2 separate regions of the Homo sapiens genome follow, and region 2 is linked to region 1. The links come from fine-mapping of genetic effects on gene expression. Tissue or cell type: whole blood. Region 1 holds a variant in brackets; the other region holds the start of a gene. All regions are shown on one strand. Distances are between the middles of the regions. Region 1 overlaps LOC124901866. Region 2 holds the start of ERI1 (exoribonuclease 1).

Region 1 (9,429 bases):
GTAGAAGCTGCAGCAGTCCCCGGGCTGGAGCTGCTGAATGTCTGGAGACGTCCCCACTGCTGGGGAGCGGAAGCCAATCCTGTGTCTCCGCTGGAGCCTCAGATGCTTCTCGGGCCCCCTGTTGTATACAGTCACTGGTACCGCTGCCGCTGGAGCCAGAAGTAGGATGGCTTCTCCCTGTCTCGCACCTGCTCATCTTCCCCTGGAGTTAGGGAACATAGGCAATGACACAAAGGAAGGCAGAGAAGGGTGGGAGTTTGGCAGAGAACCAGCAGACACTGTGGCTTGGAGGCAAATGGAGATTTGTTGATAACTAGAGTTAGGGGCAGTCAGGACTAGAAGCCAGGCGTGAAGTTCAGGAGGCCCCAAGGCCACTTTCACTTCAGATACTAACTGCAAGTTCAGGGATCCTCAAGACCACCCACAGATTTGACAATCTGTTGGAAGGACTCACAGAACTCACTGAAAGCTGTTATACTCACAGTTGTGGCTTATCACAGTGAAAGAATGCAAATTTAAATCAGCTGAGGGGGCGGGGCGTGGTGGCTCACACCTGTAATCCCAGCACTTTGGGAGGCCAAGGCAGGCAGATCACCTGAGGTCAGGAGTTCGAGACCAGCCTGGCCAAAATGGTGAAACTTCATCTCTACAAAAACACAAAAAAATTAGCCAGGTGTGCTGGTGGTGGCACATGCTTGTAATTCTAGCTACTTGGGAGGCTGAGGCAGGAGAATTGCTTGAACCTGGGAGGCAGAGGTTACAGTGAGCTGAGATTGCGCCACTGCACTCCAGCCTGGGCGACAAGAGTGAAACTCTGTCTCTAAATAAATAAATAAACTGAGGGAAGAGGCATATGGGGAAGAGTCCAGGAGAGCTCCACGTGCAAAGCTTCCAGTTGTTCTTTCCCAGTGGAGAACTAACTCAGCAGTGATGTGTGAGGATATGCATGAATTGCCACCCAGAGAAGCTCACCTGAGCCTCAATGTCCACAGTTTTTACTGGGGTTCTGTCACATCGACATGGTCAGTTTCCAGCCCTTCCGGAGGCTGAGCTGGAGCTGTGTGGCCCAAAGCCTGCATTATCGATTACATTGTTAGCATAGGTTATGGAGCTTGTTCCAAAGTCCTCAGGTAAACATTCTTATCAAGCAGGATATTCCAGTGGTTTAGAGATTATCTTCCAGGAGCTGAGGGCAAAGGCCAGACCCCTGTATGGGCAAAGTTAATCCTCTCCTGCATATGAGGTCTTCCCCCTCTCAACTTGGTGGTACTTTCAATGCTCTCAAGCTCCTTATTTGATCCTCAAAGCCGCATTATAGCATAGCCAAGGGATGCAAAAAGACAACTAAAAAAAATTCTATCAACTTTGCAGGGCATACAATATTAAGTAATTTCAAGTATAAAGTGTATTTTCAATTAGCATATGAGTTCACTTTTATATAATGTGTAGTAATATTTAAAATATATAGAAACATTTAGTTTTTTTCCCACTTAACAATTGATACATACTATTCATTTAAATCAGGTTGGGCACAGTGGCTTATGCCTGTAATCCCAGCACTTTGGGAGGCTGAGGCAGGTGGATCATTTGAGGTCGGGAGTTCAATACCAGCCTGGCCAACATGGCAAAACCCCATCTCTACTAAAAATACAAAAATTAGCCAAGCATGGTGGCACATGCCTGTAATCCCAGCTACTCAGGAGGCTGAGGCATGATCACTTGAACCCGGGAGGTGGAAGTTGCGGTGAGCCGAGATGGCGCCACTGCACTCCAGCTAACAGTGACAGTCCATCCAGAATAATTAATTAATTAATTAAGTAGCAAAAACATGCTTTATAAACAAATTAATTCAAGAAGAATATATATGATATTTAGCCTTAGGATCAAACATATATTAAAAACTGGTTTAAAATTTAAAATTGCATACTACTGTATAAACAGATTGCCTTTAGCACATTAAATAGGAAATTCACTTACTATAATTTCCATGTTTTGTTTCTAAGTTATCAATTCAGAGGAAATATTTCAAGCTTCTAAATACAGGTATTTCTGTGCAAACAACGTATTTCAGGTGCTAATGTTTACTTTTGATAAATAAGAAGTCAAATTAAATTTAATAGGCACCATATTTTCTCTCTTAATATATTTTGAAGTACAAGAAGTATTTTGTTGTGCTAAATAACACTTTTGTTGAGATGAATACAACATACAAACTGCAAATATCTCCTTGAAATAAATTTGCATAATTATTATCATTTTAATAATCCTCAGCAAGTTGTTGGATTTTGACATCTGTATGCTTCTTACCTTTAACGAATGATGTTGATATGAATTTTAAAACAAGAAAGTGAGAATAAAATAACTTTATATGTATGGTTGGAGTATTTTTTAAGCTTCTATAACAAAAATACCATAAAATGCATGGCTTAAAGATCATAAGGTTTATTTCTCTCTTATTTAACGTCTGTAGGTGAGTGGTTTCATTGAGGGTGAGATCTGTTCCGCATGTATTCTGAGAGCCAGTTGTTCTGCCATCCCATGAGACAGAATGACTAGAAAAAAGAAACCATGTTGCTTCTTAAGTTTTTTGTGACAAGGTCCCCTTTGACAGTCTGGTGAAGCTTATGGACTATCTCAGAATAATTTTTTTCTTTTTATCATTATTATTATTATTTAATACAGATAAGGTCTTGCTATGTTGACCAGGCTGGTCTCAAACTCCTGGCCTCAAGTCATCCTCCCATGTCGGCCTCCCATAGTGCTTGGATTACAGGTGAGAGCCACCATGCCTAGCCTCAGAATAATTTTTTCAAAGATATAAAAGAAAATGTATAGGATTATAAAAGATAGCAATTATATTGAAATATATTCATCACAATGCTTATAAAGCAAATGTGTGAATTACTAATATATTTGCTTCTTTATTAATACATTAAATAGAAAGATCTAGTAGGGTCAAATTGTCTCGTATCACAATTTCAAACTGGTGAAGAGCACAAATAATATTTTGAGATATCTTCAGCTGAAATGTGAAATAAAAATACCTTTCTATTGGTCACAAAGTTACCTGTACTCTTAATACTGTGGTTACTTTCCTGTATTCATAATTGAAAAACACAATTTCAGTTAGAGTTAAATTGAAATGAAGACTTTTTTTCCCTGATTTAACTTCATTAACCCACATGGTTTATATCCCCAAATTCCTTGAGTATTCATAAAACCCTGATTAACAGCTCCTGGGCTGGGCACGGTGGCTCATGCCTGTAATCCCAGCACTTTGGAAGGCTGAGGCAGGCAGATCACTTGAGGTCGGGAGTTTGAGGCCATCCTGGCCAATGTGGCAAAACCCTGTCTCTACTAAAAATACAAAAATTAGCTGGCCGTGGTGGTGCGAGCCTATAATCCCACCTACTTGGGAAGCTGAGGCAGGAGAATCTCTTGAACCCAGGAGGTGGAGGTTGCGGTGAGCTGAGATCAAATCACTGCACTCCAGCCTGGGTGAAAGAGCGAGACTCCATCTAAAAAAAAAAAAAAATAACAAAAAAACAAAACAAAAAAACTGACCTAGGGCTATGAATTAATCTACATAATCAAAGTCAAGCAGCAAACATAGCTATTTTCTGATTCAAGAAAGGGAAAAAATGAAAATCTGTAACAATTTGGGGGGAAGTAAAGGCCAAGTTTTGGGGAGTGTTTTAAGGAAGTAAGACCAAAAAAGAATTTTTTTTTTTTTTGAGATGGAGTCTCACTTTGTTGCCCAGGCTGGAGTGCAGTAGAGTGATCTCGGCTCACTGCCACCTCCACCTCCCGGGTTCAAGTGAATCTCCTGCCTCAGCCTCCCCAGTAGCTGGGATTACAGGCGTGTGCCACCACGCCTGGCTAATTTTTGTATTTGTAGTAGAGATGGGGTTTCACCATGTTGGACAGACTGATCTTGAAGTCTTGAGCTCAAGTGATCCACCTGCCAGCTTCAGCCTCCCAAAGTGTTGGGATCATAGGCGTGAGCCACTGAGCCCGGCTGAAATCAAAATTTCGTGCATTATTTCCTCTCACAATTCACTGATGAAAACTTAGCTGGATGGCCACACCTAGCTGTAAAAAAGGCTGGGGTAGGCAGGGTGTGATGGCTCATACCTATATTCACAGCACTTTGGATGCCTGAGGTGGGACGATCACTTGAGAACAGGAGTTCAAGACCAGCTCGGGCAAAAACCACATATCTGCAAAAAAATCTAACAACCAGCCAGGCGTGGTGGTGTGTGCCTGTAGTCCCAGCTGCTTGGGAGGCTGATGTGGAGGGATCGTTTAAGCCAGTAGGTTGAGGCTTCAGTGAGCCATGATTGCACCACTGCACTCTAGCTTGGGTGAAAAAGCAAGACCCTGTCAGAAGAAGGAGAAGGAGAAGGAGGGGGAGAAGGAGAACAAGGGGGAAGAGAAGGGGTTGGGGAGGGTGAAGGGGGAGGGGAGGTGAAGGGGAAAGGGAGGAGGGAGGAGGGAGGAAAAGAAGGAGGAGGAGGAGAAGAAGAAGACTGGGAAATACAATTTTTAGCTGGCTCACCATTTTCTAATGAAGAAGGGGAAAATGGATGTGGGGTGACAACAAGCAGCCTGCCATGCTCCATGGTAGTCAGAGACAACATGGTGGGCTGTTGTGCTCAGCTGGTGCTAACTCAATAGAGTGACCGTGTCATCAGCCTTTTTATCTGATCCCCCAATTGCTCCATATGGTTAGTTGGTACATACTCAAAGGCTCTCAGGTGAGAGACATTTGTCAAGATCACCTCTAAAACTAGAGAGTGAAAGAGTTGCCATGATACCCTCTTAAAATCCCAGGTATCCACATACTTCTGAGAAATGTTGCCCTCAACCAAACAGAAAGGCACGAGACCCTGGAGACAATATGTCCTAGCACTGACCCCTAGGGGACACACCACGTTCTTCTCTCCACCTGTTCTGCAGCCCAGCTCTCCCCTCACTGCACCGTTTAGGGGCAGGAACGCGGATCTGTAGGGGTCAGAGGCCAGGGCATTTGTTTCCACTGTCACGGGGGTGAGGTCTCTGTGTTTGTGATTCAGACATTTGGGGGATTTGCTTTCTCTTCCATAACGCTGGCCCAAAACTGCATCTGTTTGGGGGTTGCTGCATCCCAGGAAGCAGGGTGGTGGAGAAACCACGGATAGGTGGGTGGTGGCGAAACCACGGATAGGTGGTTGGTGGCAGATGGGGGAGTACTGGCAAGTTCCCAAGTGCAGAGGTAGCGATGCCTGCATCAGCAACCACTATCTCGTGCCAGCATCAGCCATGGTGAGCATTGTGGTCTTGTGTCCAATGCCCACTGCACTGGTGTCCTCACTGACTGACTTCTGCTCCTGCCTGCCACCAAAGCTTTGACTTTAAGCCTGCTTCTC[C/T]CATCTGCTCAGCACGAGCCGGAGCTCCTGAATAGCCTTCTGCTAAATTTCTTCCTTCCAAAGTTATTGGAGTTGGATTCTGTTGCTCACAAATAAGATTCCTGACAGATAACAGTTTGAGGGGATTAGAGACACTCCAATCTAGCTCTCAGGAGGAAGCGTATTCCTTCTTTTTCCTTGGATTTGTCTTATTACATTGAGCTGTTCACGAGGCTGTGGCTTGCGCTGGGCTTAGAGGAAAGGGAGTCTAAGACGCCGTTCATCCCACTTTTACTGGTGCAGCTCCTTGAGCCTATCTCTATCCAGGCGAAATGAATCCTTCACATCATTTACCCCAGCTCACAACTCTCTGGAGGCTTAGAGCGAAAGCCTAATCATAGCAATGACAGCCAGCTTTGTCTGCTCTCATTCTCCCTCGCACCACCCCCCTCCCCACGTTTGGAAAGGATTTAAGTGATTAGGAGCCTGGCTCTCCCAGACGCTTCTTTCCATCTGAGCTCCACAGATCACTTTATCACCTTTCACCAAACTGGTAGACTGTGCGTTATACAAGAAGACAATCTGAGTCCATTTTGTGGAGCGCTTGGGGCCAGAAAGTGCTGGCTACACAAGTCTGGAATTAGTATTTATAGAGCATAAATCAACAGAAATTATAGACATGGAATATTCTGAGAGAAAATAAATAAAAGCTAGTATGGGCTTTTGTGGAGGAGGATTAACAAGACGCGGTTCAAGGCTGGGAATGCCAGAAAAAGACTGGGGACAGATCCAGTTATGAACATGGAAATCCATGAAACTGCCTCCCCCAATCTATGTTCAAAGGAAAAGCTCTCAGCAAATATAAAATGATTTTTAAAAAATTTTTTGCTTTGAATTTCAGAATTTGCACTTATTTATGGAGGCAAATATGTTGTATATAAACTTCTAATCCAATGTTTTTATTCTCTAAAATGACAATGAGGATGATGACGAAACACCAGTCATTTACTGGGCACTTTGTTTGTTTGTTTTTGAGAAGGAGTATTGCTCTGTCGCCCAGGCCGGAGTGCAGTGGCATAATCTTGGCTCACTGCAACCTCTACCTCCCGAGTTCAAGCAATTCTCCTGCCTCAGTCTCCCAAGTAGCTGGGACTACAGGTGTGCACAGCCACGCATGGCTAATTTTTGTATTTTTAGTAGAGATGGGATTTCACCATGTTGGCAAGGACGATCTTGATCTCCTGACCTTGTGATCCACCCGCCTTGGCCTCCCAAAGTACTGAGATTACAGGCATGAGCCATAGTGCCCAGCCTAATTTTTGTATTTTTAGTAGAGGCGGGGTTTTGCCATGTTGGTCAGGCCGGTCTTGAACTCTTGACCTTGGTGATCCGCCCACCTCGGCCTCCCAAAATGCTGGGATTACAGGCATGAACCACCGTGCCCAGCCAACTGTTTTTTTTTTTTTTTTGGGGGGGATGCAGTCTCTCTCTGTCTCCCAGGCTGGAATGCAGTGGCACGATCATGGCTCACTGCAGCCTCAACCTCCTGGGCTCAAACGAACCTACTGCCTCAGCTTCCCAAAGCGCTGGGACCACATGCATGAGCCACTATGCCTTGGGCCTGTCTGTTGGGCACTGTCAAGCACCATGCTAAGTGATTTACACATACTAGCTCATTTAATCTTCACACCTGTATATGGCTGGTGCTATAGTTTCCCTCCTTTTAAAGATGACACTGAGTCTTAGATAAGATAGCCAGCTCAACATCATATAACTAGTTAATATCTCAGGACTTAGCCTCCTTTTTTCCCAGCACTTATATGTATTTAATTACTTTCTGGAAGCGCCCAGTGGGAAAATGTTCACTCTTCTTTTGTTTCCAGCTGCCAGATTGGTATTCTCCACCCCAAATGCACATTAGAATCACCTTATCAGCCTTTAAAAATTTTTGATGCCAGGGTCATGCACTCGGTCAATTAAGTCAGAATACCATGCGTGTATTTCACTGTAGAGCAAGTTAAGCTAACTACTGGATTAGGATGGAAAAAGAAAATGAAACGGCCATTGCATTGAAACTACAATGGTAAATTCCTGGTTAGGAGAGTGGGGATTAGAGCCACTAGGGGATAAGGACTACAGAATCTGCTTTTAGCTCCAATAAGCAAGAGGTTAAGTGGAGGAAGCAATGCATTAAACAAACGCGGAGTCGCTTCTCTTTTTCATAATGTGTCTCACAAGCACTGAATTTGAAGGGAGAAAACAATGAAAATTTAGGGGTAATTCTCAAAAATAATCTCCCTGGGGACAGATAGTACACAAAAGCAAGGACATAAGACTAATAAAACCATTGCTAACATTTATCAAGAAAAAAAGAACACCATAGGAATGGGCCCTGGCATTCATATTTTATAAAGTCTTCCCGAGAGATTCTGTCGTGCAGCCAAGGTTGAGAATGATTGCCTCATCTCCTTCCTCGCAATCCAGTTTTCCTACCCTGCACATCTCCACTTTGCTATTTGGTATATGGCATACAGCATCTGCCTATGAGTTATGGGATTGCCAGACAAGCAAACGGCATGCAGCCCTGCAGAAGGGATACTGTCCTCAAGCTAGCTTGCAACGGTTTCTACAGGCGGGCAGCTGTTCGAAGTTGAAGAGATGGGATACTGGATCCCATCCCACCCATTTCATTCAGCTCATCCCTGGACATGTATTTCCTGCAGTGTTATTCCCCGTGGCTGAGCTTCTAAGAGCTCCTGCACCTGCACTTGGGGCCAGCTCAGTTATAAAATGCCTAGAAAACTTTTGGAGACTTTGCTCTTTTTCTCTGTGAATAAACTCATCATTTCAATGCCAAGCTTCTCATTGGGATTAGTTTACCAGCTTTAGACTTTTTTGTTTCTTTTTTCTTTTTTTTTTTTAGACGGAGTTTCATTCTTGTCACCCAGGCTGGAGTGAAATGGTGTGATCTCAGCTCACTGCAACCTCCACCTCTCGGGTTCAAGCAATTCTCAGACTTCCAAGTAGTTGGGATTACAGGCACCTGTCACCATGACAGGCTAATTTTTGTATTTTTAGTAGAGACGCGTTTTCACCATGTTGGCCAGGCTGGTCTTGAACTCCTGACCTCAGGTGATCCAACTACTTTGGCCTCCCACAATGCTGGGATTACAGGTGTGAGCCACTATGCCTGGCTCGGCTTTTGACTTTTAAGTGAGTCTGGTTTTTCAGCAACTTCACCTTCCTTCTTGGACTCAAATCTCAAGTCAGTGAATAAAATTCATAATGTTCCTGTTGGAGAAAGAGTTATATCTTTTTCTTTTTCTTTTTTTTTGCTAGGCAGGGTCTTGCTTTGTCACCCAGGCTTGAGTGCAGTGGCGTGATCATGGCTCAAAGCAGCCTCGCTCTTTAGCTCAATCAGTCTTCCTGAGGTAGAACAATAGGCCCTGGAAGGAAAACCCTAACTTTCCACACCTAAGTGACAAGGACCAGAGGCTACTCCCTTTGCAAACCCGTCTTTTCTGCTCGGGCAGATGGGAAATTGAAAGTACCTCTGATTGCAACCAATCAGACGTTTGCATAGGAGTGTAACTTTGAAACTTTACTTTAGCCTCTGACTGTTAGCTTTCCAAGACCAATCTCTGATTGCCAGCCAAGTCTTGGTTTGCATAGAAGAGCAACTTTGTAACTTCGCTTTACCCTCTGATTGTTAGCTTTGCGAGACCAATCAGATGTGTGCATAGGAGTGTGACCTTTGTAACTTCACTTCAGCCTCTGATCGGTTACTGTCCGTAACCAATCACACTGATTGTGAGCCACCGCTCCATTTACATGAGGTGAACACCAAGTGGCCAATGGGAAACCTCTAGGGGGTATTTGAACCCAAGAAGATTCTGCATCTGGGCCCTTGAGCTGCTGCTCCAACTGCTCCCACACTGCGAAGTGTACTTTTACTTTCAATAAATCTCTGCTTTCTTTGTTTCATTCTTTCCTTGCTTTGCTGTGCATTTTGTCCAATTCTTTGTTCAAAAATGCCATTAAC
Region 2 (9,227 bases), 29 kb before region 1:
ACCGGGTCACTGAAGTCACTCGCACTGGAGGTAATGAACTTGGATCCTTTTGTCTCCTGGCCATCAAATTTACACTGTTGAGTTTCCTACCAAAAAAAAAAAAAAAAAAAAAAAAAAAAAGGATGTAGTTTATAATTAGTACAAACATCACAGATTTAAAGATTCAAACTTTCAAACTTCTGAAGCCTCTTCATGCTACATGTTCAATGAAAAGTGTTCACTGCAGCTCCTAAACGGAGGAAAGGATAAGAAGGAAGATGCGTCTCCAATACAATTTACCCCACTCTATTATGAGTCATGAGGTTCCTCAAAGGAAACAAAGCTAAGTAAAAAGAAGACTGGTGGTGGGAGTCAACACCACCTCAATAGAGAACCCCAGCTGACTATTTACTAGAAATAGCAGCATGACTTTGGATAGCTACGTATTAGCCTCTGATCCTCAATTTCCTTATCTATAAAATGGTAATTTGGTAATGGTAAATAGTGTTTGGGCAGAATTATTACAAAGATTAAATGAGATTATGTGTATCAGACCCCTACACCCACAGTAGCTATTAATAAATGGTAACTATTAATATCACAGGCTATACAACAAGCCCTTCACAAACAATATGCTAATATTTACAAATGAACCCATTTTTAAATGAACTTTTACATTATACATGTGTAATAACTTCTGATAATTTTTTAACCTGACTTCATTTCACAAAGTTAACAAAAATTGCCCAACATAAAAACAAAATGGACCGCAAATCTAATTTACAGCTTCCTAGTACTCAAAGAAGGAAATGTATTTAATTTCAAAACTTACATTTTCCAAAAGTTGTACTTAGGTCCACTAACCAGAAGAACTATAGAATTATGAATTTTTTCATAAATAAAAATCTGTTAAGAAAAAACATGACTCAATTCTATTTTCTCCACAGGCAGTCTCAAATTACTAATATGTTAAGTTCCAAAGATTCATTTGTAAGTTATTTTCCACATGCAATATCACAAATATTAGCTATGTTCCATAATTTTGAAAAATATTTAGTACTAATTATCCCTATTAAAGCTTGTTACCTTAGTTATAATGTACCACATTGTCCTCACGTAAACTGTAATTATAGATCAAGGAAGGATAATCACAGAGAGGCCACAGTCCCTAACTCAGAACTGATCCTGATGGTTCAGGAACCATTTCTTACTCTAAGCTCTCAATTTAATGCAACACACATTTACTGGAAATGTAATGCTAGGTAAGGTGCCAGAGTACTCAAGAGTGACTCACCCATTTCCTTTGAGGAAGAGGTCAGCAGTTCCAATGTGTGAACTGTCCATAAATTAAAGAACAGCCACACTGAGGTTCCTTGTTAACAATGTTAAGGAAAAAAAAAGTATTGCTAGTTGACCAATGATTCACTTTCAACAATATATTAGATTTACAATAGATATTGCTCTGCTTGACCAGAATTTTACAAAAAATTATCTTTTGACTTTAAATTTACATTGAATTTGAAACTTCATCTTTAGTCATCATTTAGTAAATTTCAGGTTAAAATTTAGGTCAACATTAAGTAACAGTTTGTCTACCAAAACAGATGTCTCAGTTAATTTAAGCAGATTTTCTCTTTGGATAAATCCTCTTTCTGATTCACTGGTTAATTCTCATCCTAAACTGTAGCTAGAAAAATTATTCACAAGTAACACTTAGGCCTCTTCTATAGATGCTATAAATTATGACTTCCATAAAGAAAAATTTGCTTCCTTTCCTAGGTCCAGCTCTAGTTCTCTTCCTTCAGTGAAGTTCTAGAGACAGCCGAGGTCCAATCCTCAGAAAGCAGTGTCTCCTCCCAAATTTCAAATCTACACTAATGGTTCACAAAGAAGGATGCTCAAATCAATCTGCCAAGGAGCAGAAAGAAAATACTAAAAACCCTACTTGTATTGTTAATCTGCAGAAAGACAAAATTAGTTTACGAAATACATACTTACATTTGCATCAGCATCCGTACCAGTAACTACATCCACCTATCACATGTCACATATAATACGGACCATATAATGAGAAAAGTGATAGATTCCACAATATGGAGAGAAACATTCACCATCACAGAACTGTAACATTTTGCAATATTCACGTATTCAATTAAGTGGATGTATGGTTTATATTATCTCAAATAAGAGAAGCTTTTACATTATGGGATGTGGCCATGAAAATCTTCTATACCAAACAGAGGTTTACTATCTTGTGGCAAACTACTTTAAAACTGTCGTTGAGGCCGGGCGCGTTGGCTCACGCCTGTAATCCCAGCACTTTGGGAGGCCGAGGCGGGCGGATAACGAGGTCAGGAGATAGAGACCACGGTGAAACCCCGTCTCTACTAAAAATACAAAAAATTAGCCGGGCGGGCGCCTGTAGTCCCAGCTACTCAGGAGGCTGAGGCAGGAGAATGGCGTGAACCCGTGAGGCGGAGCTTGCAGCGAGCCGAGACTGAGCCGCTGCACTCCAGCCTGGGCAACAGAGAGAGACTCCCTCTCAAAAAAAAAAAAAAAAAACATAAAAAAACTGTTGTTGAACTTAAAGATGAGTTACAAATTTTCTTTTACAAAAAGACAGGTATTCTATAATTGCTGTCCTCTTCTTATTGGGAAGGGTACCGGAGCTTGATTTTTAGCATTTTTTTAAAGGAACACAATCTGTTGTTGCAAGAAAAAAGAAAACACATTTTAACAGTAAGCTACAAAGTAACTGCTTGTCAAATAAAACTTTTTCTGTATAGAGAACATTTTGAAAACATGTTCTGGAAATGCTATTATTCTGCTGCCAAAAATCTAGGTACTACCTTTTAAAAAAAGAAAAGGAAAACCTCTGCATCTGCACACTGAAAAAAAACTTAGAATTTTTCTTGATTGACGTTCTTCCAAAAGGAGAGTTCTGATGAAATCTGAACCTACTTATTAAAAATATAAATATGCAATAGCTTCTACTAGTTTACAAAGACAACTAGCATTAGAGATAATGGAAATTTACCACCTGAATTCAACAAAAAACTTTGGCCCAGATTGAAAAACACTGTATCATGGCCAGGCGCAGTGGCTCATTGCCTGTAATCCCAGCACTTTGGGAGGCCGAGGTGGGCGGATCACCTGAGGTCAGGAGTTCCAGACCAGCATGGCCAACATGGTGAAACCCCATCTCTACTAAAAATACAAAAACTAGCCAAGCGTGGTGGTGGGTTCCTGTAATCCCAGCTACTAGGGAGGCTGAGGCACGAGAATCACTTGAATCCGGGAGGCGGGAGGTTGCAGTAAGCTGAGACCATGCCATTGCACTCCAGACTGGGCAACAAGAACGAAACTCCGTCTCCAAAAAAAAAAAAAAAAAAGTATCATTACTATTATTTTTTGAGACAGGGTCTCACTCTGTCACCCAGGTTGGAGTGCAGTGGCACGATCACAGCTCACTGCAGCCTCCACCCATGGGCTCAGGTGATCCTCCCCACTGAGCCTCCCCAGTAGCTGGGACTACGGGAGAGGGCAACTACGACCGGCTTTTTGTAAAAAAAAAAAAAAAAAAAAAAAAAAGTATCACTATAAAGAGCATGCAACAGTAAGTTTTTAACAATTACTACCGTCACTAAAGCCAATTTGGAACAGAGACCTAGGCCTTAAGTAGCTGTAAAAGTGTCAAGACTTTCAAATATAAAGAAGCATATTCAAACACACTTCTTTTACTAAAAATAAACTTCGAAATTTATTTTAAAACCCACTTACAGGATGAGATTGACAACGTATCTCAGGCTGAAGAGGGAGGCAGGTGGAAGAGTGGTTCTTTACAAGAGAAGGGATGTGCAAGTACTCTTTGAAATAACAACCTTAGAAGGAGAAAGATAATTGCAAGGATCCAAAGGAAGTGCACACAGGGCAAAAGGAACATACAGAGATCCTTAACGAGACCTTCTTTCCAATGTCAAAGAACACAAGGCAGCGAGGGGCACTGGGAACAAAAGGGAAAAAACTGTGTGAGATGCAATTACCAAGGGAGGCAGGCACCCGACCCCGCAGAGCAGCAAATGGAAGTGACTCAGGAGGGGAATAAGCCAAATTCATGTTATTGAAAAGCTCATTCTAGCTGCCAGATGGAAACTGACTGTGGACGGAAGGAGCAAGAGTTAGGAGGCCTCTTGCAAATACGCACTTTATGAAGCTTTACGAAGTGTTCAACATGTTTATTATTAGGAAAAGATCAATTTTAGTATTCAATCACTTACAATCCGCAGCGCTAGTCAACAATTAACATTCGTTAAATAAGTTTTAAGACTGTTCTACAACTTTGCCACTGTAACTAAGTTCAACCGATGAGATGTCAAAATGATTCATTCAATCTTATACTATGGTTATATGAGACACCAGTTAATGAGCAAAAGCAGCTAAGACGAAGCTCCACTTAACAGGTACAGAGACAGGGATGCTGGTGAGTGCTTTTTAAATTTTTTCTTTTTTTAAAAACAGGCATGAAGTGACATACCTAGCGTATATGGTGAGATTTTAAAAACATAAAGCCTTGCAAACTACCCATAACGGCTACATGGAGTGACAACAGCAACCGTGAACACAGAATTAAGTTTAAAGCAAAACTCCCTCTTAGAACCTGTTAACCCACTGTAGACAGAACTGGTCTTGACGATTTCCTCCCTCCCAGAGAGTGATTCGGCCCTGAGGGGGCTCCAAGACACCCACCCGAGGATAAAGCCAGGGAGCTGGGCACCGAGGAAGAGGCTGGGGTCCAAGGGCGCACAGCTGCACCTTCTGCGGGACACCTGAGAAGAAAGGGGTGCCGAGGGCGCTTTGGGGACGGGGCAGCTGGCGCCAACAGCCAGGCGCGGGTCGACTCCTCACCTCGGGACTGGGACGCGGCGGCTCCTCCCCGCCCTCCGGCCGCGGCGACTCCAGCAGCGCGAGAGCCACGGCCTCGCCGGCAGGCTCTTTACTCTGTGGATCCTCCATGCCGGCTGTCACGCCAGAGGAGAGTTGCTGGAGCCGGACACTTGCTAACTCTCACTCTGCAGAGCCCGAAAGCCTCGCCTTTCTCCGTTGAAAAATTACCGGGCTCGCGTTCCCGCGGCGGCGGCCACACAAACTCCAGCGGCCACCTCCCACTTCCGGGAGCGTGTGGCGTCCACACGCCGGGCAGGCGCAGTGAGCCGGCGTGCGCGGAACGCCAGCGCCGCAGTCCACAGGGGGAGGGAGGACGAACAAGAGGGAGGCGCGCCGGTGAGAAGACGGGGCGTGGCCGGCCGTAGGCGGAGCTAGCGCGGGTTGAAGTTGCGCAAGGATCTAGTCCAGTCACTGGAGGGTAGCACCGGCACGTGTGTTCCCGTCAGTGTTTCCTGAGAAGGAAAAAAGTAGGGTGAGTGGGAAGATATCATAGAGAAAGATGTTTTCGACCATAAAAAATAATAAAACAATTCACATTTTCCATAAGGAGTTTCCTAAAACTTCCACTCTGGGCAAGAAAAGAAAATGGGTCGGGACTTAGTGTCCCACTATAAACAATTAGAAAACGGAACAAAATATAGGAGACACCTATTCAGACATTGGACAACGGACAGCTGTGGACTGTTTTACCTGAGAGAAAAGAAATAAAAGGAGCCGTATATCATCCTGCCCTTTTGCCCAGAGGCGATTTCCAGTCTGTGGTGCGATGAAAGGAAATCATATGGAAACCTAGGATCTCCTGGGTTGAAAAGACAGAGATTGGAGTTGACGAAATTGGGGTAGGCCAAGTCGGTTGGAATTTGTAGGGCAGAATTCTGGAGAGGAGGGAATTACATGGAAAAAGAGCTTCAGAAATCTGCTTAGGAGTACCTTGAATCTTTAACTGAATAAAAAACGTGAAACTCCACAAGGCCAGGAAAGAACAATTACTGGGGAGCAGTACACCAAACAATGGTGAGAGGTCACACAGAACTGGGAATCATTTGAGCTCCCAGCAACCAGAGTGAAGAGATTATTGAATACCATGGAACACGCAATAGAAACCTCAGATGTGAAACTGCCATTGCAAAATTATCATTGAGACAGTGAAAGAGATCAGACCTAACCAACTCCATCTTGCTTTTAACCTCCAGGCTATCCTTATTCATTCCTAGGCGTAGGCCAAACTAACACTGGGAGGAACTTAGTGTATAGCTTATAGTTTAAAACAAAGGTGATAGCCCTTTCTCAAAATAAACCCTCTTCTTGAGACTAGACTGCTTTTGTAGGACTAGTAAATTAGCCGAAAGATTAGAAATTATGATTTAGGACTCATGCAGCTGAAGGCTACAAGATTCTAACCCTCTCCAAATTGCTCCTGGGGATAATATCACTATTGTAAAATCTAAGATCAGTGCTTGAGATATTTTGCAGGCCCTGCACTTGATGGATCAGCTGGCACCTCCCAGATTGATAAACTGACTCACCTGATCTTGGATAAACTAGCTCATCTGATTTTGTGTCCCCCACGGGAGGAACTGACTCAGTGCAAGAGGACAGCATCGACTCCCTATGATTTCATCTCCTACCCAACCAGTCACCACTCCCATCTCACTGGCTTCTCACCCACCCAATTATCCTTAAAAACTCTGATCCCCAAATGCTCAGGGAGACTGATTTGATTAATAAAACTCAGGTCTCCTGCACTGCCAGCTCTGCATGAATTGCTCTTTATTGCAATTCCCCTGTCTTGATAAATCGACTCTGTCTAGGCAGTAGGCAAGATGAACCTTTTGGGTGGTTACGAAAGTGTCATGCCTTAGTGAGATATAATAACCGTAGACTGCAGGACCCAGAACATAAACTACTGTAGATTCTTCAAAAGCCTTAAAACAAGCCCTGAAAGGATCAAACTGCTCTGTAAGTAACCTAATTACCTGTAAGAACAAATTCTAAAACTCTCTGAAAGACTACAGTAAAATCCAGGATTCAACAACATTAAATTCAAAATGTGAGACATCCAGTCAAAAATTGAAAGACACGCAGCACTTGGGGATGCTGAGGCGGGAGGATTGCTTGAGCCCAGGAGTTTGAGGCTGCAGTGACCTATGATTGCACCACCACAACCCAGCCTGGGTGACAGGGTAAGACTCTGTCTCAAAAGAGAGAGAGAGAGACCAAGTGGTAAGAAAATATCTCACGAAGTTCATAGAAACAAACCCCAAAATGATAAAAATGATGGAATTAACAGACAAGGATTTTAAACACCTGTTATGAATATGCTCAAAGATTTAAAGGAAGACATGATAGGAGAGAAACTGGAAAGATTTTTGAAAAATCAAATTTCTGGATGGAGGTGAAAAATATTTGAAATAAAAATTTCTTTGGATGGGATTGCTAGCGCATTAAGCAATGCAGAGAAAAAGGTAAATAAATTCAAAGATATAGCAACAGAAACAATACAAAATGACACACACACACACAGAAAAAAGATGAATACAGCTTCAGTAACCACTTAAAGAGGCTTAATACTTCAGGACCACTTGAAGAGGCTTAATACTATTGACCTAAAAGGTAGAAGCTGAGGCAAAATTAATATAACTAGAGAGTTTATTTGGTCCAAGTTTGAGGATTGCAACCCAGGAGCATAGAATTGAAGTTGTGCTGAATCCATCTACTCAGAAGATATGCCAGTTTGGAAGTTAAGTGAACACTTAGTAACCAATCATAATTGTCTTAAGTCTTGCCCATTCTAGATTATTTGCTTTGTTAAATAGGCAATTGAGATAGGGCATAATTCCAATAACAATAATCTTTGATGGGGTTAAGTAGCCCTTTCTAACCATACATACCTCCATCTCAGCTTCTATCTCAAGAAACAACTCTTTTGACTTTGTTTCTTTGACTTCTAGAACTAGTGCAGCAGCATCAAGAAATTAGACCTGCCATAAATAAAAAGACCCAGAAGAAGATACTCTAATAAGTAGTGAGGCTTTTGTCCATGAAGCCTATGATGAGCAGCTGTGCTGGGGAAACTCCAAGAAGTTTCTCTGAGGAAATTGGATTGTGAGACACAGTTAAAGAATGTCCCTTCTGAAAAATCCTAGCTAGGTGAAAATAGTCGAAGTCAGTCAAAAAATAGTAAAAAAAAAAAAAAAAAAAAAATACAAGCTAGATGAAAATAGCTACATGAAAATTACTATCGTGCAGTAACTTTTTTTGTCTTTAGACTCTGGTTTGAGCTATTAAAGGTTGAACAAAGTGAAACATGCATGAAATAACCGAAAAGGAAGATGAGGCAAAATTAATATAAGTAGAGTTTATCTGGGCCAAGTTTGAGGATTGCAATTGTAGATTCAAGTTGCCCTGGGTATACTCAGATCAGTAGAAGCTACAAGTGAATTTTTAAAGGAAAGAGGCAGTTGCTGGGTTGTTTATCAAGAATTTACTGTAAGGCCAGGCGTGATGGCCCACACCTGTAATCCCAGCAGTTTGCCAGGCTGAGGTGCGAGGACCACTTAAGCTCAGGACCAACCTGGCCACATGGTGAAACCTCATCTCTACAGAAGGAAGGAAGGAAGGGAAGGAGGGAGGGAGGGAAGGAAAGAAAAAGAAAGACAGGCAATCAACAAAAGAAATAAGTAAAATGCTTATAGTATGGAGAAAAGTAAAACAGGAAAAGGGAATGGGAGGGTGCCCAGGTATGGAGGGGGTTACAATTTTAAATAGAATCGTTAGGGAAGACCTCTCTAATGATGTGCCATTTGTGTAAAGACTTGAAGAGGCAAGGGAGTAAACTGAGTATATATGGGAGAAGAGAAGTTTAGGCAGAGTAAACAAGTGAAAAGATCCTGAGCTGGGAGTGTACCCAAAATGTTTAAGAAATATCACTGTGTTCAGTACTTTCTTATGACTGTGTGACATCAGTATGCAGGAGACCTAAATGTTTTTATTTATTTATTTATTTATTTATTTTTTGAGACAGAGTCTCGCTCTGTAGCCCAGGCTGGAGTGCAATGGCGCTATCTTGGCTCACTGCAACCTCAGCCTCCTGGGTTCAAGAGATTCTCATGCCTCAGCCTCCCAAGTAGCTGGGATTACAGGCGCCTGCCACCACACCTGGGTAATTTTTGTATTTTTAGTAGAGGTGGGATTTCACCATGTTGGCCAAGCGAAACTCTCAAACTCCTGATCTCAGGTGACCTACCCGCCTTGGCCTCCCAAAGTGCTGGGATTACAGGCATGAGCCACCTTGCCTGGCCGAT

Evidence for each region.
Region 2: ERI1 starts here. The variant in region 1 is fine-mapped to the expression of ERI1 in whole blood (TOPMed, PIP above 0.99).

What each region holds. Positions count from the first base shown.
Region 1 is chr8:8,969,770-8,979,198 of GRCh38, reverse strand. It overlaps LOC124901866, which reads right to left. Exons shown (of 4, transcript XM_047422504.1): 3 at 1-202. Among named protein-coding and RNA genes, the nearest start is that of ERI1, 28 kb to the left of the region's middle. RefSeq lists an enhancer at 1,006-1,300. The variant C/T (reference allele first, on the strand shown) is at 5,409.
Region 2 is chr8:8,998,829-9,008,055 of GRCh38, reverse strand. It overlaps ERI1 (exoribonuclease 1), which reads right to left and starts at 5,159. Exons shown (of 7, transcript NM_153332.4): 1 at 4,885-5,159; 2 at 1-86. The coding sequence starts at 4,992. It overlaps LOC105379227 (a long non-coding RNA gene), which reads left to right and starts at 5,314. Exons shown (of 3, transcript XR_002956680.2): 1 at 5,314-5,395.